Homo sapiens: one gene and its partners. The protein of the gene in region 1 interacts with the protein of each later gene in a biochemical or structural test. Each region holds a gene or a part of one and is shown in the gene's direction. Other genes may lie near its edges.

What was found.
Region 2: the proteins of MET (region 1) and CRK form a complex in vitro, tested with the Homo sapiens proteins (one large-scale study listed by BioGRID and IntAct).
Region 3: the proteins of MET (region 1) and ZAP70 form a complex in vitro, tested with the Homo sapiens proteins (one large-scale study listed by BioGRID and IntAct).
Region 4: the proteins of MET (region 1) and NCK1 form a complex in vitro, tested with the Homo sapiens proteins (one large-scale study listed by BioGRID and IntAct).
Region 5: the proteins of MET (region 1) and SH2B1 form a complex in vitro, tested with the Homo sapiens proteins (one large-scale study listed by BioGRID and IntAct).
Region 6: the proteins of MET (region 1) and LYN form a complex in vitro, tested with the Homo sapiens proteins (one large-scale study listed by BioGRID and IntAct).
Region 7: the proteins of MET (region 1) and ITGB1 interact in far-western blotting, tested with the Homo sapiens proteins (one study listed by BioGRID).

Annotation. Positions count from the first base shown.
Region 1 is NC_000007.14:116,755,651-116,759,830, forward strand, and holds part of MET (hepatocyte growth factor receptor isoform b preproprotein), read left to right. Parts: intron 1-1,786; coding exon 1,787-1,889; intron 1,890-1,987; coding exon 1,988-2,124; intron 2,125-2,808; coding exon 2,809-2,970; intron 2,971-3,686; coding exon of another isoform or gene 3,687-3,740; coding exon 3,741-3,840; intron 3,841-4,180. UniProt on the Homo sapiens protein: Receptor tyrosine kinase that transduces signals from the extracellular matrix into the cytoplasm by binding to hepatocyte growth factor/HGF ligand. Regulates many physiological processes including proliferation, scattering, morphogenesis and survival.
Region 2 is NC_000017.11:1,445,683-1,449,862, reverse strand, and holds part of CRK (adapter molecule crk), read left to right. Parts: intron 1-4,180. UniProt on the Homo sapiens protein: Involved in cell branching and adhesion mediated by BCAR1-CRK-RAPGEF1 signaling and activation of RAP1.
Region 3 is NC_000002.12:97,733,396-97,737,575, forward strand, and holds part of ZAP70 (tyrosine-protein kinase ZAP-70), read left to right. Parts: exon of another isoform or gene 1-148; coding exon 149-200; exon of another isoform or gene 201-1,124; coding exon 1,125-1,317; intron 1,318-1,854; coding exon 1,855-2,061; intron 2,062-4,077; coding exon 4,078-4,180. UniProt on the Homo sapiens protein: Tyrosine kinase that plays an essential role in regulation of the adaptive immune response. Regulates motility, adhesion and cytokine expression of mature T-cells, as well as thymocyte development.
Region 4 is NC_000003.12:136,868,323-136,872,502, forward strand, and holds part of NCK1 (SH2/SH3 adapter protein NCK1), read left to right. Parts: intron 1-4,180. UniProt on the Homo sapiens protein: Adapter protein which associates with tyrosine-phosphorylated growth factor receptors, such as KDR and PDGFRB, or their cellular substrates. Maintains low levels of EIF2S1 phosphorylation by promoting its dephosphorylation by PP1.
Region 5 is NC_000016.10:28,870,099-28,874,278, forward strand, and holds the end of SH2B1 (SH2B adapter protein 1), read left to right. Parts: intron 1-1,681; coding exon 1,682-1,885; intron 1,886-2,091; coding exon 2,092-2,303; intron 2,304-2,435; coding exon 2,436-2,607; coding exon of another isoform or gene 2,608-2,660; intron 2,661-3,071; coding exon of another isoform or gene 3,072-3,171; intron 3,172-3,348; coding exon 3,349-3,722; 3' UTR 3,723-4,107; downstream 4,108-4,180. UniProt on the Homo sapiens protein: Adapter protein for several members of the tyrosine kinase receptor family.
Region 6 is NC_000008.11:55,998,203-56,002,382, forward strand, and holds part of LYN (tyrosine-protein kinase Lyn), read left to right. Parts: intron 1-143; coding exon 144-297; intron 298-1,215; coding exon 1,216-1,347; intron 1,348-4,180. UniProt on the Homo sapiens protein: Non-receptor tyrosine-protein kinase that transmits signals from cell surface receptors and plays an important role in the regulation of innate and adaptive immune responses, hematopoiesis, responses to growth factors and cytokines, integrin signaling, but also responses to DNA damage and genotoxic agents.
Region 7 is NC_000010.11:32,948,080-32,952,259, reverse strand, and holds part of ITGB1 (integrin beta-1 isoform 1A precursor), read left to right. Parts: intron 1-4,180.

The DNA of each region.
Region 1 (4,180 bases):
GGTCTGTTCTGTTTTGTTCTTGTAATCCCATTTACTCATTGGATTTGAAGAGAGAGAAAGGTGACATGGCCTAGGTGAAGAGAAGAGGCCAGAAATGGGAGTTTCTCAACCATTTATGCGACAAGTCTTCAGGTGTTGTCTGAGTAGATTTGCAAGAGTAGCACTAGTTGGGATCACTTCATCCTTGGAGTCTTCAAATGTAGAGTCTCCAAAGGCTTTTTCTACAGAAATCAGTAAACAGCTCAGCATGGATCCTCTCTTTTAAATTCACTTTCTAAACCTCAGAAATGTAGTGAGGCAGCTGAATCACGTGTTTGAGACTTTTTTAGATGAGTTAAAATTTATATTCAGCTTATATTTACTGGCACTGCAATATATGGGCTGTATCTCACTGAACCATCCCCACGGTCCTGGGAGGGAGCAGTATCATTCCTATAATATAAAAGAGGTACCTGAAGTTCAGAGAGATGAAGTGTGGCTTCACAGAGGTAATCCAGAGAGTAAGAGCTGAACAAGCCTTCAGCTCAGCTCTGATCATCTTCTGATCCAAGACCCGTGCTAGTTCTACTGTATTCTACATGTACCCTTCTACAAGCTTTGAATTCCATAATCATCAGAGAATCCAGAAATTATTCATTATCACATAATAACAACACTCAAATATTTAAAGTTTTATGGTTGAATCTTTATGATTGAACCCATTCTATCAGGTGGTTATTTTATATCTAATAGAATTCATTTCAGGGTTACACAAAGGTCCGAATCTATCCATTTTACTGAGACCAAAACACTAATGAAGGTAATATTTGTTAGCTGAATGGCAAAACAAATTTTTTCTAGAAATCTCCCTTGTAAAATCTCCAAAACTCTTAATCATTGCATATAAATCAGGACCTGTAAAAGTAAAGCATAATTCATTCTCTCCTTTAAAAAGTTATTTAATAAATCAAATTGTATTTAAATTTTCTCAGAACTATATGATTATTCATTCAGAAATAATTCTATGGAAAGCCATCACAATTTCATTATCATTTAAGTAATTTAAATAAGCATGTACAAGTATAACCACAGAAATGTACCTGTTGACATACTTTAATGAAGAGATTGGCCTATTTGTAGTTAGCCCATTGTTTCATATGCATCTGAAGTGGACCAAAGATTATCCCCAAATATTAATATTATCCAAACTTAGATTATTATGCACTATTCAACTGGTGAGGTCTTTATGGATAAGGTCTGATATTTCCTGTTTGTCTGTATAAGTGCTATAGTACCATTAATGTAAAGTTTAGTATAAGCAGGGTGCAGTGGCTTACGCCTGTGATCCCAGCACTTTGGCAGACCAAGGCAGGAGGATCACCTGAGCCCAGGAATTCAAGACCAGCCTGGGCAACGTAGTGAGACTCCATCTCTACCAAAAAAAAAAAAAAATTTTTTTTTAATTAACCAGATGCCGTGGCATGCACCTCTAGTTCCAACTCCTGAGTCCAGAGGATCCCTTGAGCCCAGGAGTTCAAGGCTGCAGTGAGCTATGACTATGCCACTGCCCTCCAGCCTGGGTGACAGAGCAAGATCCTGTCTCTTTTTACATAAAAATAAAAGTTAAGTTTATCATAGTATAGAAATAGGATTATATAATTTTTGGCCTTAATGCTTATCTTGAAACTCTGCTTGCTATTCAAAGCAGTCAGCTCACCATTTAGAGTTAATGTCACTTCCTATAAAACAACCTAACCAGAAAATTCCTTGGATTTGTCATGTATTAAACTTTGGGTTTTTTTTCCAGATTGAAATGCACAGTTGGTCCTGCCATGAATAAGCATTTCAATATGTCCATAATTATTTCAAATGGCCACGGGACAACACAATACAGTACATTCTCCTATGTGGTAAGGAAGATTCTATCCTATCATGTTTGATTTTTACTTAATCTATTTAAATTATAAGATGAACAAGTTACTTTGTTTTGTTTTTATCTCCCCTCCAGGATCCTGTAATAACAAGTATTTCGCCGAAATACGGTCCTATGGCTGGTGGCACTTTACTTACTTTAACTGGAAATTACCTAAACAGTGGGAATTCTAGACACATTTCAATTGGTGGAAAAACATGTACTTTAAAAAGGTGTTGTAAATTTATTTTTTGTTGCATCTGTCAATTTGAATTAATATCTGTACCTTAAAAATTAAGCAGATTGTTTTGTGTGTGTGTGTGGAGAAGAAAAATCAAGATGTTTATTTGTTTACTCTCCTACTGACAAAACTTCCTCCTTCCAAAATTCATCTACTCCTTTTGCTGATTTTTCTTCCTTTCTCTTGTTTTTTAGCAATCCTACTTTTCAGTTTTGTCTTCCCATCCACCCTCTTTATTGTTATAGCTTAGGATCTTAGCTATACTATGAGCTGTGAGAGTCTGGTCATTGATAATAATTTAAAATAAACATTTTCATCAAGATTTGTAATTAGACTAAGTCACTCTGGGGAAGGAAGAAATGGGGAAAATTGGGTCTGGAAGACAGTTATGTTTCTGCTTCTTAGAGTTGGAAGAGCTCAGTTTAATCAAGTACCAAAAGTACTTTAAAGGTTTTTTTTTCAAATCTCAAATGTTTTCCAGTCAAGGATAGCTTGTCCACAACAAAGGTAAGTTTGAGATCCAGTCAGATTAAACAGCCTACACTAGAAAAGGCTTCCACTCAGGAAATTCCCACTTAGGAACCATTGAGTTATATCCTTTTGATTTGTGGATATAATTCTAAAATATGTGTATCTCTAATAGCTAAAATTCACTTCCTTAATTTTTTTTGTTCAGTGTGTCAAACAGTATTCTTGAATGTTATACCCCAGCCCAAACCATTTCAACTGAGTTTGCTGTTAAATTGAAAATTGACTTAGCCAACCGAGAGACAAGCATCTTCAGTTACCGTGAAGATCCCATTGTCTATGAAATTCATCCAACCAAATCTTTTATTAGGTAAGTAGAAGCTTCTGATGGGTATAAGAAAACAATGAATACAAGGATGATTTTGCTGTAGAATAGTCAAGAGGAATTGCAGTTTTATCTCTGGCTTTGATGCTGTTATGTTGCTTTTGAAGGCTTCTTTCCAATTCAGGAGAGAAAACTATATTCAGGTTCTGAGTGTAGTTTGACTTATCAATGCTAGTTCATTCCAAGAAGTATCTTATCCTGTTCTATTACATTTAAACAGAGTATAGCAAAATAGTTTAATGTGGCATTGTAGTATACATGCACTTACATTATGTACATATCAATTCTATACTAACCTTAGTGCCCAGAAGTGGAATTACCTTTTTTCTTCCATTCTCTAGATATGTTTTTGTCCTGCCTGCTTTACACACAGCTTTTCTTTATGCCAGACTCTCTTTGAATTGATATCTCATTGGACCCAGTTCAATCTGCCTTGTTTCCGTTAATTCTATCAGTCTAGCAACAATAGTTAAGTTCGGTTTTCTTTGTATTTTTTTCAGAGGTGAAATATTTATTTTGTGTAATTCGGTGAATAAAATACAAATGCATTTCTTAAGCTTATGAAATATGCATTTTAAAAATATTTTCAAGTTAAATAAGTTGTTTCCAAAGAACAGTTACCCATGAACTTCCATTTGATGTTGACTGTGCCTCTGACCTGTAATCAGTGCAGGTGATTAAATTGAATCCCTCTCTTACAGTACTTGGTGGAAAGAACCTCTCAACATTGTCAGTTTTCTATTTTGCTTTGCCAGTGGTGGGAGCACAATAACAGGTGTTGGGAAAAACCTGAATTCAGTTAGTGTCCCGAGAATGGTCATAAATGTGCATGAAGCAGGAAGGAACTTTACAGTGGTAAGTCCTTTGAGCAATGGTTCTACTCAGAGCTCTGCATCTTTGCCTCTAACCATGTGGCTTTCATGGTACCTGAGACATCTCAGTTTCGCCTTTAAGGTTTGCTAGTTAATTTCCTTGCAGTGTAGCCAAGTAGTATTTTTTATTTAATAACTGAAATTATCTAGAGTCTTGGGCTAACCATGTGGAAAAAATACATACACATACACACATGCACATATAATGTTTAGACAAGAATGAAGATTACCAATTTGAGACAGTGTTTTTTTATGTTTGTTGGTTGGTTGGTTTTGAGGGTTTTTTTGAGACAGTATCTCACCCTGTCATCCAGGCTGGAGTG
Region 2 (4,180 bases), on another chromosome or scaffold:
TCCGTTGAACCTGTTTTTAACTTGTCTTGGGTCCTCAGCTTGCATAGGCTTCCTGTGGTGCCATAGCTTGGGAGTTCCCTGGGGCCATAAGGAAGGGCTTGGCCAAGTCTACTGGTCACATTCTGTCAGGTTGGGCTTCAAGATGGACCTCCTTGGAATGCTTGCAAGAAACTAGTTTTTTTTCTCTTGAACAGCTAAACCTTTCAGGTTGACACAGCTGAAGGAGTGTGAGTTAGGAGAGTCGTTATAAGCTTGAGCTGTGGATCCTGGGTTGGGCCTTATTTACCTACCACTTACTGCTTGTGTAACTTTGGGCAAATTGTTTAACTTTTCCCTGCTTCAGTTTCCTCATCTGTGAAGGAGGGAAATAGTAATACTGATCTCATAGGGTTGTTGGAATGATACTCCATATTCAGTACTGGCATACTAAGTACTCCATAAGCATTTCATGTATACGAATCTTAATAACATAACTGAGGTGTGGGGGCTTTTGAAGCAAAATGGAAAACTTCTTATCTTTGAGAGGCTGTGGAATTCATGCTGTGGATGGTAGGAACTGGTGAAACAGTTTGTCTTGGGGAGTAGGTGCCTGGGTGGAGTGCATCCGTAAGTGTGAAAGGACCTCGGGTCCAGCACTTGGAAATAAGATGGTGCCTCCTGTTACCTGCTCATCCGACCTGTTGCGCTAGTGGGTGGAGGGGGGCATAAAACGTGCTTCATTTTGAAGGCGTGGGACAGAAGCTAGGGTGGTAATAGTTTGTGATACTCCCTCGAGGTAGTGAAGAGCTACATGCCAGGCTGGCAGCTGGGCCAAGCCACTTCTGGAGGTAGCGTGAGACTGCTGATGGCCCTGTTGCTCAGGCTGGTGTGCAGTGGCTCCGTCATAGCTCACTACAGCCTCACTGTATGACCCAGGCTGGGCTTGCACTCCTGGCCTCAACAGATGTCTCCCTAAAGATTGGTTAATCAGTTTTTAAAAATAGAGAAAAAAATAAAGAGATCCTCCTGCCTCAGCCTCCCAAAGTGCTGAGATTACAGGTGTGAGCCACCGCACCTGCCTGACCACAGAACTTTTGAGAAGCATCTTGAGATCCTGTGGAATTTTCTCTGGGAAACGGTCCAGTGGGCTCTGGATTTGAGGATGAATTGAAAATTGCTGAAGGAATTTGGAGAATTGGTTGCTTTTTATTGAGCACCTATAATGTACGAGCCACTTTTTCTTTTTTTTTTTTTTTTTTTTTTGAGATGGAGTCTTGCTCTCACCCAGGCTGGAGTGCAATGGCATATTCTCGGCTCACTGCAAGCTCTGCCTCCCAGGTTCAGGCAGTTCTCCTGCCTCAGCCTCCCCAGCAGCTGGGACTACAGGCGTGCACCACCATGCCCAGCTAATTTTTGCATTTTTAGTAGAGATGGGTTTCACCATGTTGATCAGGCTGGTCTTGAACTCCTGACCTCAGTGATTTGCCTGGCTCTGCCACCCAAAGTACTGGGATTACAGGCGTGAACCCCCACGCCCAGCCTCTAGCCACTTTAGGAACTTTATTTATTAGATAGGTATTTGACCCCATTTTGCAGAGTCGGGGGTGAGGCACACAGAAGTTAGGTAACTCAGACAGCTAGAAAATGAGAGCCACAATGCACCAAACCTGCAAAGGACCGTCCTCATACCCACCATCTTTAGAACATTCTATTTGCTTAGGAGACCATATATCTTCTCAGATGGAAACCAGTGGCCTTCTGTCGCCCAGGCTGGAGTGCAGTGGCGCGATCTCTGCTCACTGCAAGTTCCGCCTCCCGGGTTCAAGCGATTCTCCTGCCTCAGCCTCCCGAGCCAGTGGCCTTTTTAGCGTTTTGTATTGGTGGGTATTTATCTAAGCAACCCCTGTAAATACCACAGGCAGAGAAGGAAGGGAGGGAGCAAGAATTGAGGAAAAAAGGGAAAAGAGGGCCGGGTGTGGTGGCTCGCGCCTGTAATCCCAGCACTTTGGGAGGCTGAGGCTGGCTGATCACTTGAGGTCAGGAGTTCGAGACCAGCCTGGCCAACATGGCAAAACCCTGTCTTTCCTAAAAATACAAGAATTAGCCAGGTGTGGTGGTGGGCGCCTGTAATCCCAGCTACTCGAGAGGCTAAGGAAGGGAGAATTGCTTGAACCCAGGAGGCAGGAGGCAGAGGTTGCAGTGAGCTGAGATCGCACCACTGTACTCCAGCCTGGGCAACAGAGGGAGACTCCGTCTCAAAAAAAAAAAAAAAAAAAGGAAAAGAGAAAGTGCTGTGAGATCAAGGAGAGCCTGGCCCGCTCTTGTAGACCCGTCAGAAGTGATTGGGCCTATTTTAGCCCACAGAGCCCTCAGGTGTTCTTCATGAAACCTTCAGGGAGGGAGTGGCCTTGTAAAAATGGTCGTAACCTGAGGCTTGAAATGCTTGGAAGGCTTAGAAGTAACGGGCTGAGCAGGTACCGAGAAGCTGAAAGGATATCCTCTCCTTGCATTGATTTTGATTTCCGTTTGTGTGACTTCCTAACTCCACGTTCAGAATCCAGCACAGGGTGATGTAGAACAAGTCATTGAGGTTTTCCAAGTCCCAGATAGCTATGAGAATCCTGTCGTTGCTTCTGTTCTCTAGACTGGCTGACTGTGCCTCCTTCCTTTCCCGCCCTTCTATTTCCTGCCTTTGGCTGTTTGTGGTTGGAAGGAGAGGAAAGAGAGAAAAGGAGCCGGAACACACAGCCATGGTGAGGTTTGGGCTTATCTGGGACTTATGTGTGTTCTGTTCTCCTCCCTTCCTTCTGGAGTTTGGATCAATGAAGCTTGATGGCCCCCAGCAGTTCACAGAAACGGGCATTTCTCTGTGAAATTATTACAGTGTCAGAATAGAAAAATAATTTATAAGTAAAGTACATCAAAGGTTTTCCGTGGCGTTTTGCTTACGTTTCTGTGTCTATTGGGATTGCCAAACAAAAAGAAAGTCACGGCCGGGCGTGGTGGCTCACGCCTGTAATCCCAGCACTTTGGGAGGCCGAGGCGGGCGGATCACGAGGTCAGGAGATCGAGACCATCCTGGTTAACACGGTGAAACCCCGTCTCTACTAGAAATACAGAAAAAAAAACCCGGGCGTGGTGGCGGGCACCTGTAGTCCCAGCTGCTCGGGAGGCTGAGGCAGGAGAATGGCGTGAACCCAGGAAGCGGAGCTTGCAGTGAGCCGAGATGGCGCCACTGCAGTCCAGCCTAGGCGAAAGAGCGAGACTCCGCCTCAAAAAAAAAAAAAAAAAAAGTCATAGTGAGCCCAGTTCACGCTATTGTGGCATTTGACCAAGAAGAGAATTAAACCTGCTTCCTACCTTTGCGCCAGATGATCTGCCAAGTTTTCTCTCACTCATCTTTCAGAGCGACTTGGCTTAGTAGTCTCATTTGTTCTTTCCCCGCCAAAATGTATTTCGCTCGGCCTGCTATGGTAACAGTGGCTGGCAGGGGGTGGTTACCTTCCTTCTTCCAGTGGAGAGAGTACCTTGGAAGTGTTCACAGATGGTCGTAGTTGCTCATGGCGATTCTGTTGTATCTCAGGACACAGTGCGTTATTCCAACTGTCTTTAGCAGGAACATAGATCCAGGTGAAGGTGAAAGCCGGGTGGGAGGTTGTCTTCCTAAGACGTGCCGCTTTCTCCTTGTTCACCAGCCACACTGTGCTTGCTGTGTTATCTCCAACAATGCTGTGAACTTCTCTGAGCTTCTCCAGTCTAGGAAGGCATTGTGCTTAGCTTCTTTCCATCACTTCAGAGTTAGGCTTATTAAGATAATATCTGGCTGGGCGCGGTGGCTCATGCCTGTCATCCCAGTACTTTGGGAGGCCGAGGCAGGCAGATCACAAGGTCAAGAGATCAAGACCATCCTGGCCAACATGGTGAAACCCCATCTCTTCTAAAAATATAAAAATTAGCAACACTTAACTGAGCACTGACCTGCCAACCACTGTCCCAAAAGGACAACTAATAGAACACCTTGGCATGTAGTTGGGTAAACCTTAGCAAGGGAGCTTTTCTCCACCCAGCTGTGATCAGAACCATTTCTAAGCCATGGGTGCCCAGGTGGCCTCCTTACCACTCTGCCCTAGAGTTTTCTTGACCAGGCAGTGCTAAGTAGGTCCCTATGCGCTCACACTGACCCTGTCCTAAACAGTTTCTC
Region 3 (4,180 bases), on another chromosome or scaffold:
TGTGGGGGAGGCTGGGATGGAGGCTGGGGTGCCTGTGGAGCGGAAGAAGCTCTCTCTCCACTGTCTCTGGGAGTCCTCAGTGGATATAGGTCTCATGAGAGGGGCTGGACGTCCCCAGCTCAGGCCTTGCTGACCCTGTGGCCTTTAGCCTCAGAGACGAATCGACACCCTCAACTCAGATGGATACACCCCTGAGCCAGGTGAGCGGGCAGAGGTGGGGACGCGGGTTGGGGCTCATGCTGAGCCGAGATCAGGGTCGCTGTCAGGGCTGTGGGGTTTCACGGGGGGCGCTGTGGGCCGGGCCAGGCTGTGGCAGTTGGCTTGGTTAACACCTGTGCACACATGTGCCCACACCCATCACACCTGCCTGTGCACATGTACGTCCCAGTGTGTACTGACGTGCAGGGAGCACACTTGGCCTTGCCTGAGGCTCCCCAGACACACGTTTGTTGAGTACCTACTATGTGTCAGTCACGTTCCGAGGTCACTGTGTGTATGAGCCACCGAACCCTCCTGACATGCCTTATGAAGTGGCTATGGTGATTAACCTCACTTTACAGATGAGAGAGGGAGGGGTCTGTCTATGGGGATGTGAGGCAGTGGTAGAGGCGGGATGTGAACCCACGATGGGCCCCAGAGCTCACATTCCTAAAATGGTCTGCTGCGGGTGCTCCTGTTTCTCATGGGTGGGCCCAGACCTGAACATGTGTATGCACAGAGAAGACACATAGTTACATGTGCACCTAGAGGCTCGCTTTTGGAGGCCTCGTAAATGTGGCTGTGTGCTGCATACGCAGACAGGGACGGGCCCGGCCATAGGCGTACACGTACGAATGCACACACATGCACACCCCAGCTGGCACAGTAACGGTGCCACGTGGATACCAATGCACACGCCCCTAGAGTCCACCCTCATGTGGCTTCATGGGGCACCCACAGCTGTGGCCAGGAGTGTATGCCAGTGTGTGCGTGTGGATGTGCAGGAACACGCATGGGCACCCACCTGCTTGTGCATGCTCCAGGGACGGCACCCTTGTCTGGGGCAGGTGCTTGTGGGGGCTGAGGCTGCCTTGCTCCCCACACCCCTGCCCCTGACCTGGGAGTGTACCGCTGTGTGTGCCCAGCACGCATAACGTCCCCAGACAAACCGCGGCCGATGCCCATGGACACGAGCGTGTATGAGAGCCCCTACAGCGACCCAGAGGAGCTCAAGGACAAGAAGCTCTTCCTGAAGCGCGATAACCTCCTCATAGCTGACATTGAACTTGGCTGCGGCAACTTTGGCTCAGTGCGCCAGGGCGTGTACCGCATGCGCAAGTATGGCCGCCCCTGCCGTGGTGGGAGCACCGCCGCCTGGGGCAGAGGGGAGTGGCTTCACCGGGCTGTGGGACGGGAGCCGGGATGTCTGTCTCACAGCAGTTTGCCTGGGAAACAGACTCTGGGGCAGGACGTTGCACGCTGGAGGATTCCCTGAGAGAGCTCGGGACACCTGACGGGGGTGGGATGGGGCCTGGGCAGGGGGAGGCTGTGGAGCTGAAGTTCCCAACCCAGGGGAGCTGCAGTGGGGTCCCCGATCCCTGAGTCCACTGGCCCCTGACAGGCTGCCCCTGGGGAGGGTGTCACTTTGGATTCTTTTTGGCGATGGGCTGTTCCCGGTGAGCGATCCGGCTGTGAGCCGTCCTCAGCAGACGCTCCAGGCTGCAGGGACATTGAGCGCCTTGGTCCCAGCCTGGGTGGCGACTACAGTTGTCTACCACACAACTCAAGGGAGAAGAGAGATGGGTGGGTGGGGGTGTGGGGCCGAGCAGGGCCGGTGCCCCTCGCCCACGTGCCTCCCGTGGCCGGGTCGGGCAGGAAGCAGATCGACGTGGCCATCAAGGTGCTGAAGCAGGGCACGGAGAAGGCAGACACGGAAGAGATGATGCGCGAGGCGCAGATCATGCACCAGCTGGACAACCCCTACATCGTGCGGCTCATTGGCGTCTGCCAGGCCGAGGCCCTCATGCTGGTCATGGAGATGGCTGGGGGCGGGCCGCTGCACAAGTTCCTGGTCGGCAAGAGGTGAGCACCGGGTGGGCCCGGCCATCGGGTGGGTGGGGCCGGGGCCCATCCTGGGCATGGTGGACATGCACCCGCGTGCATGCGTGTGTGGGAAGCCGGGGCACTTCCACACCATCGTGGACACACTCTCAGCCTGCACACCCACACCCATACCCATGCCTGCAAAGCAGAGCTAACCCTCAGTCCACCATTGCACCAGTGCGGTAATAACAGTGTCTACCTCCAGGGCCTTTGCGAGGATCGAATGAGTCGGCACCTATAAAGGGCACTGCTAGGGCCGGGTGCGGTGGCTCATGCCTGTAATTCCAGCACTTTGGGAGGCCAAGGCGGGTGGATCATGAGGTCAAGAGATCCAGACCATCCTGGCCAACATGGTGAAACCCCGTCCTTACTAAAAATACAAAAGATTAGCTGGGCGTGGTGGTGGGCGCCTCCCAGCTACTCAGGAGGCTGAGGCAGGAGAATCGCTTGAACCCACGAGGCGGAGCTTGCAGTGAGCCGAGATTGTGCCACTGCACTCCAGCCTGGGGACAGAGCGAAACTCCATCTCAAAAAAATAAATAAATAAAAATAAATAAAGGGCACTGCTAGTAAGAGCTTTGTACACATCAGCTGCTCCCCAGACTCCCTGGGCCAAATTCATGGCCCCTGGGAAAGTGCCCATTGCCAGTTATCTGGAACCTGCCCTTTGTTTACGTGCTGCGTGGTTTTCTATTTTTAATTTTTTTTTTTTTAAAGAAACAAAAACGAAGATGTGACAGAGATCACTTGTGGCCTGTAAAGGCTAAAATCCTTACTATCCGGCCCTTTACTGAAAAGTTTTGCAGTTTCATTTGTGGTTCCTCATCCCCAAACTCTTACCCTCACAGACACAAGTTCTGCACTCCCCAAGGCACGTTTTTGCTGATCTGTGCCCTCTGGCTGGTGCACACACCTTCCCAGTGTGCCCCTGGCTCCCACATTCAGTCATTTGACAGGTGTTTATTGGACAGTTTCTCAGTGACAGGAACTGTTAGTAGCACTTGGGATTCATTAGCGAATAAACAAGGCAGAGATCCATGCTCTGTATTCTGGTTGGAGAAGAGAGACAGTAAGTAACAATCCTGATGAAATCTAGAGCATGTGGGAAGATAGTGTGGTGGGCACAAGCCTGCCGCAGCTCCAGGGGGTTGGGAGTGTTGGGGTGCGAGGTGCAGTGAGCAGGGAGGTTTGAACAAACTGAGGGAGGCCGCCATGCCCAGACGTGGGGAAGGGCATTCCAGGCAAAGGGCACCGCCTGTGCAGAGGCCCTGAGGTGGTCCCGTGCCTCGTGTGGTGCGGGCAGGGAGGGGATGAGCAGACCGTGCCAGGCCTTGCGGGCTGCCAGGAGGACTTGGAGTTTTACCCTGAGTTGGGTGGGAGCTAGGGGGTGCTGTGAGCAGAGGAGGGGGAGGACCTGACTCAGGGGCAGAGAGGACAAGACAGTGGGAGACAGGAGGGAGCGAGGGCCTGGGCGGAGCTGACTATTCCTGCCTGGGGGTCCAGGTGAGTGATGCTGCGGCTGCTTCCCGGTGGCAGAGGCAGAGATGAGGAGTGCGGTGGATTCTGGAGAGATTCTGACACCAGAACTGCCAGGGTTTGCTGATGGATTGGGTGTGAGAGAAAGAGGAGCTGCTGGAGAGGACAGTGGAGGAGCCATATGTGTGTGCACATGGGGATGGGGACAATCAGGCCACATTATCTTTGAGATGCCTGTGAGACCTCAGCACGTCGAGGGTGCAGGCATAGGTCTAGACTTGGGAGTCGTAGCGTGTGGGTGATCCCTAAAGCCTTGAGACTGGATGAAGGCAGGAGTTTTGCCTGTTTTGTTCACTGCTGTGTCCCCAGCCCCACGCCTGGCACACAGCAGGTGCTCAATAAGCGTTTTTGAACACATGGTCACCTGGCTCATGCCCAGCTGGGTCAGAGAAGCATGCTTTGCCCCTGGGAACTTGGCTAGTCTTCTCCCAGCTGACCCCGCCTTCCCCGCCACCCCAGGGAGGAGATCCCTGTGAGCAATGTGGCCGAGCTGCTGCACCAGGTGTCCATGGGGATGAAGTACCTGGAGGAGAAGAACTTTGTGCACCGTGACCTGGCGGCC
Region 4 (4,180 bases), on another chromosome or scaffold:
TACCATTGAGTTTTTTTTTTCTTGAGACGGAGTCCTGCTCTGTCACTCAGGATGGAGTGCAGTGGGGCAATCTCGGATCACTGTACCCTCTGCATCCCAGGTTCAAGGGATTCTCCTGCCTCAGCCTCCTAAGTAGCTGGAATTACAGGTGCCTGCCACCATGCCTGGCTAATTTTTGTATTTTTAGCAGAGACAGGGTTTCACCATGTTGGCCAGGCTGATCTCCAACTCCTAACTTCAGTTAATCAGCCTGCTTTGGCCTCCCAAAGTGCTGGGATTACAGGGATGAGCCACCGCACCTGGCCAGTGTTTACCATTGAATTCTATCATCTGCTAAAAAATGAATCTCTTACAGGTTTTACTGCTGCAATTTAGTTTGTCTTTTCGAATCTCTTGATAATGCCAATTAATCTTTGGAGGCCTTGAATGTGGATACAGAACAATGTAATGATTTAGAGGAAACCTGGAGGGCTTATCATATAACTAAATGCAGTGATCTAGCTGTAATGTTCTTTTTCTCTTTTGAGTGTTAGAACTGTAACACCTTCACATTTTGCTACTTTTTGTCCTCTTGTTCATCTGTCAGGAACCATCACTTCTTGTTGAGCAAGACAAGACAAAATATCTTGTTGAGGCCGGGCGCGGTGGCTCACGTCTGTAATCCCAGCACTTTGGGAGGCTGAGGCATGCGGAGCCCCTGAGTCCAGGAGTTTGAGACCAGCCTGGCCGGCATGGTGAAACCCCATCTCTACTAAAGATATAAAAAAATGAGCCCACTGTGGTGGTGCATGCCTGTAGTCCCAGCTACCCGGGAGGCAGAGGCAGGAGAATGGCTTGAACCCCAGAGGCAGAGGTTACAGTGAGCCAAGATCATGCCATTCCACTCCGGCCTGGGTAACAGAGCAAGACTCTGTCTCAAAAAAAAAAAAATTTTATTTGTTCCGCTAGGCCTGATGGCTCACTCCTGTAATCCCAGCGCTTTGGGAGGCTGAGGTGGGCGGATAACTTGATCCCAGGAGTTCGAGACCAGCTTGGCCAACATGGTGAAACCCTGTCTCTACTAAATACAAAAATTAGCTGAGTGTGATGGCGAATGCCTGTAATCTCAGCTACTCAAGAGGTTGAGACAGGAGAATCACTTAAACCCGGGAGGCAGGGGTTGCGGGGTTGTGAGATCCCGCCACTGCACTTTAGCCTGGGTGACAGAGCGAGATTGTCTCAAAAGAAAAAAAAGAAAGAAAGAAAAATCATTTGTTCCATTTGGTGAGTTAGAGTGCTTTTATATGTTTGTTCTTCATGTTTATTTTTCCTCTTAACTCTAAAGTTTCTGTAACAGAAACCATGTATGGTTGCTTTCGTATTTTTCTTATGTGTACGTAACAATAGTTGAATGCTGTAAGACAGCATAGAAGACTATCAGGTAAAATCTCTCTGTGGAGGGAAAGGAATGCTTATTCTCTTGGTCTGTTTTTCATTTATTTTTTGGTTGTTAATAGTTGCTTTTTCTATTTGTTTAAATTATCAGTTAAAAAAACCTGTTAAAACACTGATTCTCTTGTTTCTATTCCTGAAATTGTAAGTAATGATTGCTGAATTGGACATGAATATGGTATGGATAATTTTTGCTTTTGTTCAAACAGCCAGTTGAATAAAACAAGCAGTGAAAATATGTGGAAATATTTAAAAGAATGGATGTTTCTCAAAAGTTTTTTTTTTTTTTTTTTTTTTAAAAGAATCATCCTGGCCCAGCGCAGTGGCTCATGCCTGTAATCCCATTGGGAGGCCGAGGCAGGTGGATCGCTTGAGGTCAGGAGTTCGAGACCAGCCTGGCCAACATGGTGAAACCCTGTCTCTACTAATAATACAAAATTTAGCTGGGCGTGGTGGTGCATGCCTGTAATCCCAGCTACTTGGGAGGCTGCTGCAGGAGAATCATTTGAACCCAGGAGCCAGAGGTTGCAGTGAGCCGAGATCATGCCACTGCACTCCAGCCTGGGTGACAAGGAGAGACTTAATCTCAAAAAAAAAAAAATTCATCCTTTTCTTCCAAAAATTTTAGCACGTATTTTCATATGTTAGTGTGTAGATCAATTCAAATAATAGATACAACAAATACTGTAATATGTTGTGTACCTTGTAATTATTCCAGCTGTATCGCAGAAATATTTTATAAATTTAATAGGGCTGGGCAGTTTTTTTTGGAAATGCTTGATCATTTGCAAGTACTACATGCTCTTGAATAATATATTTTCATTTTTAGAAACATTTAGAATATTTAGTGTACAACCCCTGTCTCCCAGTAATTCTGCTGCCCAAGGAAATCAGTTACTTTATTTTTTCTTTTCATTTCTTAGCTATAGTCTTTAAAAAAAAAAAAAAAAAAAAGGCCTGTGAGGTCTTGCATGATTTGGCTTTTGTCTACGTCTCACTTCATCTCTTGCTTTTGTCTCTTTCCTCTTTCAGCCTTGAATAGCTTAGCCCTTTTTTGCTTTGGTGTCTGTGATCATGCTCTTCCTCAGGGCAGATGGCTCCTTTAGGTTAATCAGCATTAAGTTTGGCTACTAGTATCAGACAGATGCCAAATATTAATTTCTCTCACACCAGAGAAATCCAGGGTTGGCATGGCATTCATTTATTAAATGTTATTTCCAGGTGTGTGTATGTGTTTTGCTATTGTAAATTCTGCAATAAAGATCTTTGTGTATAAGGCTTTACATTTTTTTTCCTTTTGATTAATTCCTGTTGTGGATCCAACTAAAAAGCTTACTAATTTTTTTTTAAAAAATTGTTTAGTCTGGGCATGGTGGCTTATGCTTGTAATCCTGCACTTTGGGAGGCTGAGGTGGGAGGATGCCTTGAGGGTAGGAGTTAGAGATCAGCCTGGGCAATATAGCAAGAGCCGGCCTTTACAAAAGTAAAAAAAAAAAATTAGCCAGGTTTGGCTGTGAGCGTCTGTAGTCCTAGCTACTTGCAAGGCTGGCGGGAGGATTGCTTGAGTCCAAGAGGTCGAGGCTGCAGTGAGCTATGATCGCGCCACTGTACTCTAGCTTGGGGGACAGAGCGAGACGCTGTCTAAAAAAAACAAAATTAAAAATTTGTTTAGAGAAAGTATCTTTAAATGTTTATTGAAAACTGCACAAATTTAAATGTATAGAATGTTTATATTTGTAGATATCTGTGTAGTCATCACTCAAATCCAGATGTGGAACATTTTTAGTGTTCGAAAAGGCTCTCTTGCGCCCCCTCCAATCAGTGTCTCTTTCCCTCTCAAAGGTAATCACTATTCTGTCCTCTATCGCCATAAACTATTTTTGCCTGTTTTTGAACTTTATATAAATGTAACTGATATGGTTTGGCTGTGTCCCCACTCAAATCTCATCTTGAATTGTTACTCCCACAATTCCCACGTGTGGTTGGCAGAACCTGGTGGGAGGTAATTGAACCATGGGGGTGGGCCTTTCTCGTGCTGTTCTTGTGATAGTGAATAGGTCTTGTGGGATCTGATGGTTTTAAAAACGGGAGTTTCCCTGCACAAACTCTCTTCTCTTATCTGCCGCCATGTGAGAAGACATGCCTTTAACCTTGTGCCATGATTGTGAGGCCTCTCCTGCCATGTGGAACTGTAAGCCCATTAAACCTCTTTATTTTGTAAATTGCCCAGTCTCAGGTATGTCTTTATCAGCAGCATGAAAACAGATTAATACAGTAAATTGGTACCAGTAGAGTAGAGTGCTCCTGAAAAGATACCCGAAAATGTGGAAGCAACTTTGGAACTGGGTAACAGGCAGAGGTTGGAACAGTTTGAAGGGATCAGAAGAGGACAGGAAAATGTGGGAAAGTTTGGAACTTTCTAGACTTGTTGAATGACTTTGCCCAAAATGCTGATTGCGATATGGACCATAAAGTCCAGGCTGAGGTGGTTTCAGATGGAGATGGGGAACTTGTTGGGAACTGGAGCAAAGGTGACTCTTGTTATGTTTTAGCAAAGAAACTGGCAACATTTTGCCCCTGCCCTAGAGATCTGTGGAACTTTGAACTTGGGAGAGATGATTTAGGGTGTCTGGTAGAAAAAATTTCTAAGCAGCAAAGCATTCAAGAAGTGACTTGGGTGCTGTTAAAGGCATTCAGTTTTACAAGGGAGGCAGAGCATAAGTTTGGAAAATTTGCAGCTTGACAGCGT
Region 5 (4,180 bases), on another chromosome or scaffold:
TCTGTGCACCACACGCCTGTCTTCTGAGCACTGCCTGCCTATGACATTTGTGTAGGCAGTGGCCTGCTGTTGGACAGACTTGGAGGATGGCCCTAGTGCATACCTGGCCCTGCTCTGTGTCCCGGGCCAGGATGGGGTAGCTAGGATGCCTGAGATGAGCTCCTTGTTCTCTAGAGGCTTTCAGCTGGGTTGACATCACTCCCTATAGAAAGCTTAGTGTCCCCTGAGCAGCACAAGCAGGAATCACGTTGGGAGCTCAGGAGGAAGAGAGCAGGGGAAGGTGGGAGAGACAGGGACTGCGACGCCGAGGAGAGGAGAGGACATGCCTGGGGACGTGAAGGGCAAGAGCAGAGACCTGCGGGGAGGGCCCAGGATATGGGGACAAATTGGATGGGAAATTGGGTTAAAGTGGAAGAGACATGAATACAAGGTAAGGTAAAGCTCAAGTTGGTGTGGGTTGGGGGAGTAATAGAAGGAGCATCTTTGATGCCTCTTAAGAGTTAGGGGCTTTGTCCTATAGTTCAACAAAGGACACCTTTTTTTTTTTGTTTGTGTGTTTAATTTTTTTATTTTTAAAAAATTATTGTTTGTGTTTTTGTTTTTGAGATAGGGTCTTGTTATGTCTCCCAGGCTGGAGTGCAGTGGTGCAGTCACAGCTTCCTGCAGCCTTGACCTCCCTGGCTCAAGCCATCTTCCTGCGTCAGCGGCTTAAGGTGCTGGGACCACAGGCGTGTGCCACCACCACACCTAGCTAATTTTTTATTTTTTGTAAGAGATGGGGTCTCACCATGTTGCCCAAGTTGGTCTTGAACTCCTGGGCTCAAGTCATTCTCACACCTCAGCCTCCCAAAAGGCTGGGATTACAGGCGTGAGCCACTGTGTGCAGCCAGAATTCCGTGTGTGTGTGTGTGTGTGTGTGTGTGTGTGTGTGTGTTTTGAGACAGAGGCTTGCTCTGTCGCCCAGGCTGCAGTGCAGTGAAACAATCTCGGCTCACTGCAACCTCTGCCTCCCGGGTTCAAGCAATTCTTCTGCCTCAGCCTCCCAGGTAGCTAGGATTACAGGTGTGCACCACTACGTCCAGCTAATTTTTGTATTTTTAGTAGAGATGGTGTTTCACCATGTTGCCCAGGCTGCTCTCGAACTCCTAAGCTCAAGTGATCCTCCTGCCTCAACCTCCCAAAGTGCGGGTATTACAGGTGTGAGCCACTGCGCCTGGCCCAGGACTCCTTTTGAATGTCAAAATATTTGAGGCAGCTGGGCACGGTGGCTCACGCCTGTAATCCCAGAGCTGAGGTGGGCAGATCACTTGAGTCCAGGAACTCAGGGCCAACCTGGGCTATTATATAGCGAGACCCCTTCTCTACAAAAACATGTATATATATATTTAAGGCATTCTGCTCTCCGTTTCTGCAACAGTCTTTCAGCTGTTGATTCAGAAAAAGATGGAGACACATTGGGACTTTAGAACCTCCTTGCAATAACTCTGCAGTCCCTCAGCAGCGCAGGAAGCATCAGTTAGGAGCCATTGGTAAAAGCATCAGGGGTCACTACCCACAGAGCTGTTTGGCATCTTGGCCAGCGACTGCACACAGGGTAGACTGCTGGTGAGGAGATGGGCCCAGGACAGTCCTTTAGAAGAGGAATTTCTTGGGTTCTCAGCTTTGCCCTTTTTTTTTCCAGGGGCATATGGGGGCCTCTCAGACCGCCCCTCGGCATCCATCTCCCCCAGCTCTGCCTCCATTGCCGCCTCCCATTTTGACTCGATGGAACTGCTTCCCCCAGAGTTGCCCCCCCGCATCCCCATTGAAGAGGGACCCCCAACAGGGACAGTTCATCCCCTCTCAGCCCCCTACCCTCCCTTGGACACTCCGGAAACAGCCACAGGTACCGGAGGTGTGAGTGTGCATGTCTCCAGGCCTGGGTGCCTACCTTCCTGACCACCTCTCCTGGGATCCCGAGGGAGCTGGCCCAGGGGAGTTGGGGACGCATGTGGGGAGCAGGCGCCTTGAGGGGAAGGCAAGGCTTTTTTCTCCCAGGATGGGGGAGGCTGCCCTGACACCCCGGTTTCCCTCCCTCTCTCCTTCCTGAAGGGTCCTTCCTGTTCCAGGGGGAGCCAGAGGGCGGTGAGGGGGACCAGCCCCTCTCAGGGTATCCTTGGTTCCACGGGATGCTCTCTCGGCTCAAGGCTGCACAGTTGGTGCTGACTGGCGGCACTGGCTCCCACGGTGTCTTCCTGGTGCGCCAGAGTGAGACAAGGCGGGGTGAATACGTCCTCACCTTCAACTTCCAGGGCAAGGCCAAGGTGAGCCACCCTGTGGGAAAGGCTCTGTTCTGTGCATAGTTGGCAGTGGGGTGGGGGAGCACTGCCGGGGGAGGGGGTTTGTACCTGGCAGGGCCTTTGCCTCCTACCTCACCTCCCCCATCCCGCCCTCAGCACCTGCGTTTGTCGCTGAACGAGGAGGGTCAGTGCCGGGTCCAGCACCTGTGGTTCCAGTCCATTTTCGATATGCTCGAGCACTTCCGGGTGCACCCCATCCCTTTGGAGTCGGGAGGCTCCAGTGATGTTGTCCTTGTCAGCTATGTCCCATCCTCCCAGCGACAGCAGGGTGAGCAGAGCAGGTCTGCAGGGGAGGAGGTGCCCGTGCACCCAAGAAGTGAGGTGTGTGTGCCAGAAAGATGGGGCGGGGAGGGGGGACTATCACAAGGAGAAGCTTTGCTTGGGAGAGCAGGGTAGAGGAGGCTGTTGTGCCTCGGGGTTTGGAAGGGAAAGAAATGCGCTGATAGGACACAGGAAGGCAGAAGGCTCCTGGCCGGAGCCGGGGCGGCAGCTGAGAGGTGGGCGGGCGCATCCCCATTCCATCGGATCCTCTGTTCCATTGTCTGTCTGTCTCCTGGACCCATCCTGGCCTCGTCTTTGCCCTCCGTCGCAGCCTGGCCTTGGGCCTGCCCTTCCCGGGGACACTCGGTCTGATCCCCTTCCCTCCTCCCTCAATGTCTCATGTCCCTGTCTGATCTCTCCCTTTCCCCTGCCCCACCGTCCCATCTGTCCCCACGTTGCCCCTCCCCCCAGGCCGGGAGCAGGCTGGGAGCCATGCGGGGGTGTGCGAGGGAGATGGATGCCACCCCGATGCCTCCTGCACCCTCATGCCCTTCGGAGCGAGTGACTGTGTGTAAGTGTGGTCCTCCTCTCACCACCGCCCATGATCCATCTTCCATGGATGGGGGGTTGCTCAGGAGATGGGATGTGGGGAGACAGCCACGCTCCTGGGGGGCTGAGTGAAGGGGAGGCCACGGCAGGAGCTCACCTGCCTCCACAATCAGTCTGTTTTCTTACCATTCCTATCCAGAACCGACCACCTCCCATGACCCACCCCAGCCCCCTGAACCCCCTTCATGGACAGATCCCCCACAGCCTGGGGCAGAAGAGGCGTCGAGGGCGCCAGAAGTGGCGGCAGCAGCAGCCGCAGCAGCCAAAGAGAGGCAAGAGAAAGAGAAAGCGGGCGGTGGAGGGGTCCCGGAAGAGCTGGTCCCCGTGGTTGAGCTGGTCCCCGTGGTTGAATTGGAAGAGGCCATAGCCCCAGGCTCAGAGGCCCAGGGCGCTGGGTCTGGTGGGGACGCGGGGGTGCCCCCAATGGTGCAGCTGCAGCAGTCACCACTAGGGGGTGATGGAGAGGAAGGGGGCCACCCCAGGGCCATTAACAACCAGTACTCCTTCGTGTGAGCCAACCCCACCCGCTCCACCCTTTTTAAACCCCCCAGCCCTGCTCGTGAGATTGGGCTGGGTAGGGACAGAGGAGGCCGAAATCCCTCCCCCATGCTTCCTGACCCTTGTTGGCCAAGGGCATCTTTGATGGTACAAGCAGAGGCTCGGGAGAGGCTCCCGTCACACACTACAGGTCCCCTCCCCAGGGCAGGGGATTTGGGCTCCATGAGCTCCTTGAGGGGCTCTTCTGGTCAGCCCCACCCTGGGGGCCATTTCCCCATTAACTACCCCCAGCCCGAGGCAGGGTGAGGGGGAAGGGCTGTCAGTTACATTAAGGTGGTTGTTGTTGTTGTTTTAAACAAAATGGAGAAGCATAAATAAATAAAAAGGTTTATCTCGGTTCTATCGTGATGGCTATGGCCATTGTTTGCTGTGGGGACTGGGGACAGTTGGGTTGGGAAGGCAGCCCACTCAGT
Region 6 (4,180 bases), on another chromosome or scaffold:
TACCCACTGTCTTTAAAAGCTGAATGATCAAAATAGTATACATGAAAAGATTTCAGGAATTCATAAGTTTTCCGGTTTTCCTTGATGGCACTTTCCAGTCACCTACCCTACATATGAAAATGGGAGCCTATTTCTGTTTTCAGATTGCAGAGGGAATGGCATACATCGAGCGGAAGAACTACATTCACCGGGACCTGCGAGCAGCTAATGTTCTGGTCTCCGAGTCACTCATGTGCAAAATTGCAGATTTTGGCCTTGCTAGAGTAATTGAAGATAATGAGTACACAGCAAGGGAAGGTATGTTGCACTAATGATCTTTAGATGTTTTATTATTGTGTTTTATTTTGTTTTTGTCTGTTTTTGACAAAGCAATTACAATAGTCACCATTAAGAAAAACTTATTTGGTACAACATTTAAGCTGTACCATAATTGTCTGCTTATGGTTCTATTCTAATAGTTTCTAGAAGGTACTCTCTTGATTAACTCCACATGATACTTTTGTTAGGCTTACAAATGCTATCAGTTGTATTTCAATTAAGCAATGCAAAACACAAATAGATTCAGCAAGATGATTCTTGTTTATTTTGTATTGTTAAAGTTTTCACTCAAACAATGAATATAATATACGGGGCTGTGGAGAAAATATTTGTAACATTAATTCTATATTGTTTATTCCAGCCTTTTAATTACAAATTAAAACATGAACATTACCATACACACAGAACTAAATATAATGCAAAAAATCTACTTCTTTATTTTCCCACATTCTGTATTATATATATGAACCAAAAATGCACAGAGAGGCCTAAGTTCCCCAGCCTGTGGCACATTGTCAGGGGGCCAAGCATGGTCGGGACTGCAGGGCCTTTCTTGGGCTAGGATTGCCCACGTGGTTATGACTGAGGATTCTTATGCTCTCACCCACGAGAGCTGAGCAAATATTTTTGCAGTGCTCACTGTCTTCTGGAAGAGACAAGCACTTTCTTGAAATTCCTAAGCATTGTTGAACAAGGATTATTATTATTTTATTATTTTGAACCTGGGAGGTGAAGGTTGCAGTGAGCCGAGATCGCATCATTACATTCCAGCCTGGGTGACAAGAGTGAAACTCCGCCTCAAAAAAAGAAAAGAAAAGAAAGTATGGGGTCACATGTTCATGACTTTTTTGTTTAAGTTTAAATACCCAAGTAAGAACCACATATCTTCTTCCTTAGGTGCTAAGTTCCCTATTAAGTGGACGGCTCCAGAAGCAATCAACTTTGGATGTTTCACTATTAAGTCTGATGTGTGGTCCTTTGGAATCCTCCTATACGAAATTGTCACCTATGGGAAAATTCCCTACCCAGGTATGGTTTACTTAGCTATTTACAATCAAGCTGTATAAATGAGAAAAAGTCAGGTTGCATGAAGGCATTAAAAAGTAATAATTACTTCATCTACCCGATAGCAAAGAATAAGTGCTTTGAGCCAGAACTTGATTTTCACGGGCTGGGCATGGTGGCTCACGCCTGTAATCCCAGCACTTTGGGAGGCCGAGGCAGGTGGATCACCTGAGGTCGGGAGTTGGAGACCAGACTGACCAACATGGAGAAACCCCGTCTCTACTAAAATTACAAAATTAGCCAGGCATGGTGACGCATGCCTGTAATCCCAGCTACTCGGGAGGCTGAGACAGGAGAATTGCTTGAACCCGGGAGGTGGAGGTTGCAGTGAGCTGAGATCGCGCCATTCCACTCCAGCCTACACGACAGAGTGAGACTCCATCTCGAAACAAAAAAAAGACTTGATTTTTATTTTCACTATCTTTAGCATAAATTGTTCTAAGAGTGCTTAGACACTTCTTTGCCTCCTTATTTTGAGTGTGTGTTCTTGTTCTGCACTGATTAATTCCACCACATACTAGAATGTTCCGGGCATGGTTGTTGGTGTCGAGATGAGGATGGATAGACACAGGGGCTCCTCCAAGGCAGTCCCCCTGACTGGAAGGAGGAAACCCACATGGAGACAAGGATTTCCGATGCTTGGTTTTGTAATAAGTGCCCTGGAGTCTCTCTCTCTTCAAGAAATAACCACCTTTGTTTATCAGTGGGAGGCCCTTCTGCTCTTTAACATACTGGTATCAGTGAGGGCATCATTCAGTATTTATTTCCAGATTCCTAACACCTGAAGCCTGCAGAGCCAGATTCTGACCATCCCTCCATTTTTCCATGGTCTGTGCTGGCATGGTTAAGAAGAGGGATTTCGGCCAGGTGCAGTGGCTTACACCTGTAATCCCAGCACTTTGGGAGGCTGAGGTGGGTGAATCACGAGGTCAGGAGTTCGAGACCAGCCTGGCCAACATGGTGAAACCCCGTCATTACTAAAAATACAAAAAATTAGCTGGGCGTAGTGGTGGGCATCTGTAATCCCACCTACTTGGGAGGCTGAGGCAGGAGAATCACTTCAACCTGGGAAGCACAGGTTGCAGTGAGCCGAGACTGCACCCCTGCACTCTAGCCATGGCGACAGAGTGAGACTCTGTCTCAAAAAAAAAAAAAAAAAAAAAAAAAAAAGAGGGATTTCTCCCAGAGCCTTCATATTTTCATTTATGTTTGACTATTAACAAAATATTTGCATGAGGGGAATTTAAAATTAAATTTTTAATGTTTAAATCTTTCTCCTATTCAAAAAATATTTGAGTATGCTAGGCACTCTCAGCTGCTAGGATGCCATGGTATCTGCCCATGTCCTTGAGAGTGAATATTGTAGTGGGGAGAGACTGATGTTTATCAAACACACAGCCATCCTGTAGGGTGGTGAGAGTAGTGTGGAGCCTGCGTGGAGTGGCTTAGGGATTGGCGAGTACTCACAGAAGGGGGTGGGGAGCTGCTGGTTTTATTCCATGGTCCTGGCAGCAGCAGGGACTCACAGAGGGAGGGAGTCTTGGGCTCTCTGAGGTCTGCATGTCCCCATGGGGAGAGCAGCCAGAGCATGGGCTTGGCCAACAGGAGCAGGAGGCCAGCGTGGTTTGGGCCTCTGTGAGTATTTGATGGATGGATGGGTGAATGAATGAATGAATGAATGACGCACCTAGGCCATTTGATCTCTAGACAGTCGATGGATGAGAAAGAAGGCTATGTAGCTGGGGGTTAGAGTGGCTCAGGGAGAGACTTACTGGCCATGTAAGAGCAGCCCCTCTTACTCTGCTGAGATGCAAACCAGGGAAGGCTTTTGGACAGAGCAGCCACACAGTCTGCGTGCTCCCATCACTACTGTTTCATGTGGGGATGAGCCACAGAGAAACTGGGGCAGGGACCAGTTGGCAGCTGAAAGCCTTTGGGTGGTGTCTGCCTGCACAGTGGACCGGCTGTCCCAGGAAATCCCTTTAGTGCCAGCATTTCATCTTCCAGCTGCTCTAGACACTGAGATTAATGAATTAACATTGCTGCAAAATAGGAAAAATATTTCTAATCAGCCCCAGTGTCTGATGTTATATATCTCTATCTCCATCTATGCCTACATCTCTTTCTATAATCTGTCTGTAGAGAAAGATTATATAGTCAGATTATGTATATAATCTGACACCTGATAAACATACAATCTCATAAAAGAATGTTTTGTGATATGCGTGGTGTGCTGCATGTGATGTGCTACCATGGCCCCTGAGGCTTGGAGAAGGTGATTGGGCCCCTCGCTGGTGGCAAAGCTGCTCTGAGCCCCAGATCCATGTGCCTCCCAAGACCCCTCAGCCAATGTGCACAATGCCCAGGATTTGGAAATATTTGGGGTGAAAAATCATTTTTTGAAAAAAGAACTGGCTGGGCACGGCAGCTCACACGTGTAATCCTAGCACTTTGGGAGGCTGAGGCAGGTGGATCACCTGAGGTCAGGAGTTCGAGACCAGCCTGGCCAACATGGCAAAACCCCATCTCTACTAAAAATATAAAAATTAGGCTGGGTGCAGTGGCTCACACCTGTAATCCCAGCACTTTGGGAGGCCCACTTTGTGGGCGGATCACAAGGTCAGGAGATCAAGACCATCCTGGCTAATATGGTGAAACCCCATCTCTACTAAAAATAAAAACAATTAGCCAGGCGTGGTGGCAGGCGCCTGTAGTCCCAGCTACTCGGGAGGCTGGGGCAGGAGAATGGCATGAACCTGGGAGGCGGAGCTTGCAGTGAGCTGAGATCGCGCCACTG
Region 7 (4,180 bases), on another chromosome or scaffold:
AAGCAAATTTGGTAATCATGTAAATTATGAGCTGCTGACCACCTAGAAATATATTTGCTGATAAGAGCTTTCATATAATGATCATATTTTATCTTTCCAACAATTAGATACTGTTTACAGCTTACTGATGTGTAAAATGAGAAACTTTTTTTCCTATGTTTATCATGGTTTTAAAACATTTATCATGTATTTAAAATACTGTATGCACTCCACCACAGACAGGATGGAGAGGAAGATGTGACAAAAGATGTGGTCAAAATTAGTTTTAATCAAGGAAGCATTTTGGAATGATCTGCTTAAAAAGTGGATATAATTACGCAGTTTGAGAAGATAATTCTCCTTAATTGAAATTACGGGGAATAAGTCTTGCTCTCAGGTGCTTATTGATACCGTTGATCATGCTGGTTCTTTTGCTGGCTCCACTCACAATTATCTTTGACAACTTGCCCCAAAGTAAACTTTCTCAACCAAAACCGTTCCCAACTTCTTTCCTCCTCACAGGGAAAGGCAAAAAAGTCCGCAGGCATAGAGAGTGGAAAGAAGGAACAGCATACTAGGCTGGTTTGAAAAACAATCAATTGCTAGGTAATAATGTCTTACCTTTTGAGTGGAAGGAGGAGCTGGGAAGAATTAAGTTCGGGCAGGTTTTTTGCTCATTTTGGATCAGCCCTTCATATTATGGCTTAATAGCTTTGTTTATAGTGTATTTTTCTGCTTTTACGTTCATCCTCTGAAGTCTTGAGTTAATTTTGTGCCCCTTTACCCCCATTTGAATTAAATGCTTCATTTTTTTCCCGTTTCTCACATAAAGCTATTTTTTTTTCAGGACAGGGAGGGGCTGGTGGTGGTGGTGGTGCTGTACCAGTTGTCTGTTTATGAGATCACCATTAGACAACGTTTCTCATTGGCTTGAATTATTTGAATTTTGTGTGATTTTCCTGTTATGTTGATTCTGTTCTTGGTGTCTATGAGTTCTGTAGAGGATTCCAGCCTAAATTTTCTTCCTTAGTTCTGTTTACTTTTCCTCGACTTTTGTGGTTTTGCTCTTTGATCACTGTCAAGATCTATTTGAGATTTTCTGACTTTCTTGAAGAGCAGAATGAGATCTAGATTTTCTCTTATTTTTAAAGAAGATTCTTCACTGACTTCCTTTCACTTTTTGTTCTGTGGAAGTCTTTCCTAGGTGTTAAGTTTCCAGGCTTTACCTCCCCCTACCCCCAACGTATTATCTTTAGGCATTTTGTTTGCCAATGCGTACTATATCCATTATTTATCTTTCCCTTGCACTTGTAGATTGGGTGGTGATAAAAATCTTCCATATTTCATTTTCCTGGAGAAGGCGGGTAGAGTCACTAGTGATGAATTTTATCTTCAATCTGTTGTATAATTTTCTTAAAGTATCTCGCCGTGTTGTGAGCTGTTCTCAGATTTCAAATTGTTTTGTGAACCTATAGCTTTGGAGCAGCCAAACCTTTGTTGTTAGAGCTTCTTAGCCCAGGCTATCATTATCATTGTGTGAGAAGGGGTTAGTGCTCTTTAAAAAGCCATTTTTCTTCTGGGTGGGAGTGGTGAATTTTAGATGGTTTTCTAATTCAGACTACTTTTCTGTTTGTCAAGGAGAGGAGAAGAGGACTTCAAATGTGGTGTTACATCTTTGGGATCCCTTAGCCTCTTCTCTTTCATGTCTCCTTTTTTTTCTTCTCTATTCTTTCTGCGAAGTTTTGTTAATCATTAATGCTAGCTTATTAATATTTGGGCCATAAACACCTCTGTAGTGACCAACACACCTCTTCCTGCCAGATGGAAGGAAAAAAAGTGTTGAGTTTTAATTGTTCTTCCTGTAAGGGGAAAGGTTCCCTTTCCATGGGAGGAACTCATCTCCACATGTCACCCTCTCAGATGGTACAGAATTCAGAAAGATTTCTCAGTTTCTTCCATTCATGTTTTTCTCGTTTTTATTACTCTCTATGTGGGATAAGTGGGAGGAACCTCATGTCTTTCAATTTGGCTCTGTGTTCTTCTTCTGGAATATATTGATTTTTAAATACTAAAATCTGTTATTGGCCTATTTCTTCCCCTTTTAAAAGCAGATACAGAAAATAATGATGGTAGAACAGACTTGGGATGAATCCAAGTTTATTATAATTTTTAGGAGACATTTATGATATACCTCTATAGGTATCAGAATCTTTTCTACTATTAAGGTGAAAAGATTTGAGATTTTGTGAAATCTTTTGTGTATTCTTTTTATTTGAGTTGGCTTTTAGGTGGCTTATTTTTCAACTCTGAAATGAACATAACATGTTACATATGTTACATATGTTACAATTTTTTTCTAAAGTGTAGTTGTTTAATTTCTACAAAGATAGTCCATATAAAGTTTCTAAAGATTGTAAATTTAAAAGGAAATGCCAAATGAATTATTTGTAAAATTGTTTAAAAAAATTAATAAATAATGAGTGTGTATTTAAAAGTTTGAACATGATATAAAACCATACTTTTATGGATAAAGATTAGTTTACAGTGAAGATTAAAACAATTATGCACTATTTTTGACAGTGGAAACAATTGCACATATTTGGGTTAACCACTAAAATGAGATTATTTGTGGGTGGTGTTTAAGATTGTTTATTGTTCAGGGAATGAATTATGACCCCTTAGATAAAATTTCATATGGTAAAAAATGACCTTAAGGTGAAATGCTTTTATAGGAACAAGACACAAAACCTTTGTCTGTACTTATGAAATATGGCAATTAAAATAACTTTTCTTGGCCTCTATTAAGTTCAAATGCCCAAGAAATAAACTCATAGAACATTATAAGCCCTTTCCATTTCTGTGCCCTGAGTCAGTTCTAACACTAGAAGGATGTTCTTTGTTTTAAAATAGTGATTAAGTAGGCTTTGAAAAAATTACAGTTTAATGAAGTCAGGTCATAGCTTCTGGATACAGATGGTCAGGTTTCAATTCCACCTGTGCAACTTTTGATTCCACCATTGCAAGTTGTTTAGTCTCTCTGGTTTTGTTTCCTCATCTGTAAAACAAAGACACTATTATTCTTCACCTCATTGAGTTACCTGGAGGAGATAGATGCTATTATTTTATCATTATTATTATCATATCCATTTGAAGGTGCTGAAATAAAATTCTAATTTTTTAAAGTTCTAAATGAAATAACTTTTTGTTACAAATTACTTTAAATCATCAAAACTTAGTGTATTATACTCTTCTTCTTGCCTGTGCCTAGTCTGGCCCTCTCAATTGAGAAGTCAGTCTTTTTTTTTTTTTCAGTAATCCACAGTGAGCAGCAGTCCCTGAACGAAATCATATTGCTAGTTGGGTTTGATTAATAAAACACAGAATTGGTATTCTAGTCCTTTCAGGGGGGTTTGCTTCCTTGTGATGTAAGAACCTTGTCTTAGTCTTTGTGCTGCTATAACAGAATGCCACAGACTGGGTAATTTATGTCAGGGTTCTGGGGGCTGGGAAGTCCATTATCAAGGGGTTGGCATCTAATGTCTTTCTGTTGCATCATCCCATGGTAGAAGGTGGAAGGGCAAGAGAGTGAGAGAAGAGAAGGAGGCCAAACTCCGTCTTTTATCTGGAACCCATTCTCCACTCCTGTGGTAATAGCATTAATCCATTCATGTGGGCAGAGCCCTCATGACCTTATCACCTCTTAAAAGTCCCACCTCTCATCACTGTTGCTTTGGGGATTAAGTTTCCAACACGTGAACCTTGGGGACACGTTCAAAGCATAGCAAACCTCAAAGCTTCCTCCTTATTTCTGTTTGTATTAGGTATGTTATTCCCTCCCCTCAATCTTTTTTTAAGGGTTTCTGTGATATCAGTGTTCAGAGCATTTGTATTTTGTCTACTATGTTTTTATGATATTAGTGTTCAGAGCATTTGTATTTTGTCTAACATTTACTACCTTAAATATTTTGTCAGTATAAAATATTTAAGGTTTTGCTGCTTTTATTACTTTATGAACACATTTGTCAGGAATCTGATTGTTAGAAAGCACATTAAATAGAATTCTACTTGGATGTGGAATCTATAAAGAGTATAATAAGGTTTTGATATTGAGGATGTCAGTGTATGAACAGCTATAACAATCCACATTAATCTATTTTCTGTAGTTGTGTTACTTCTAACTTTCAGACTTTATCCTTTCTTT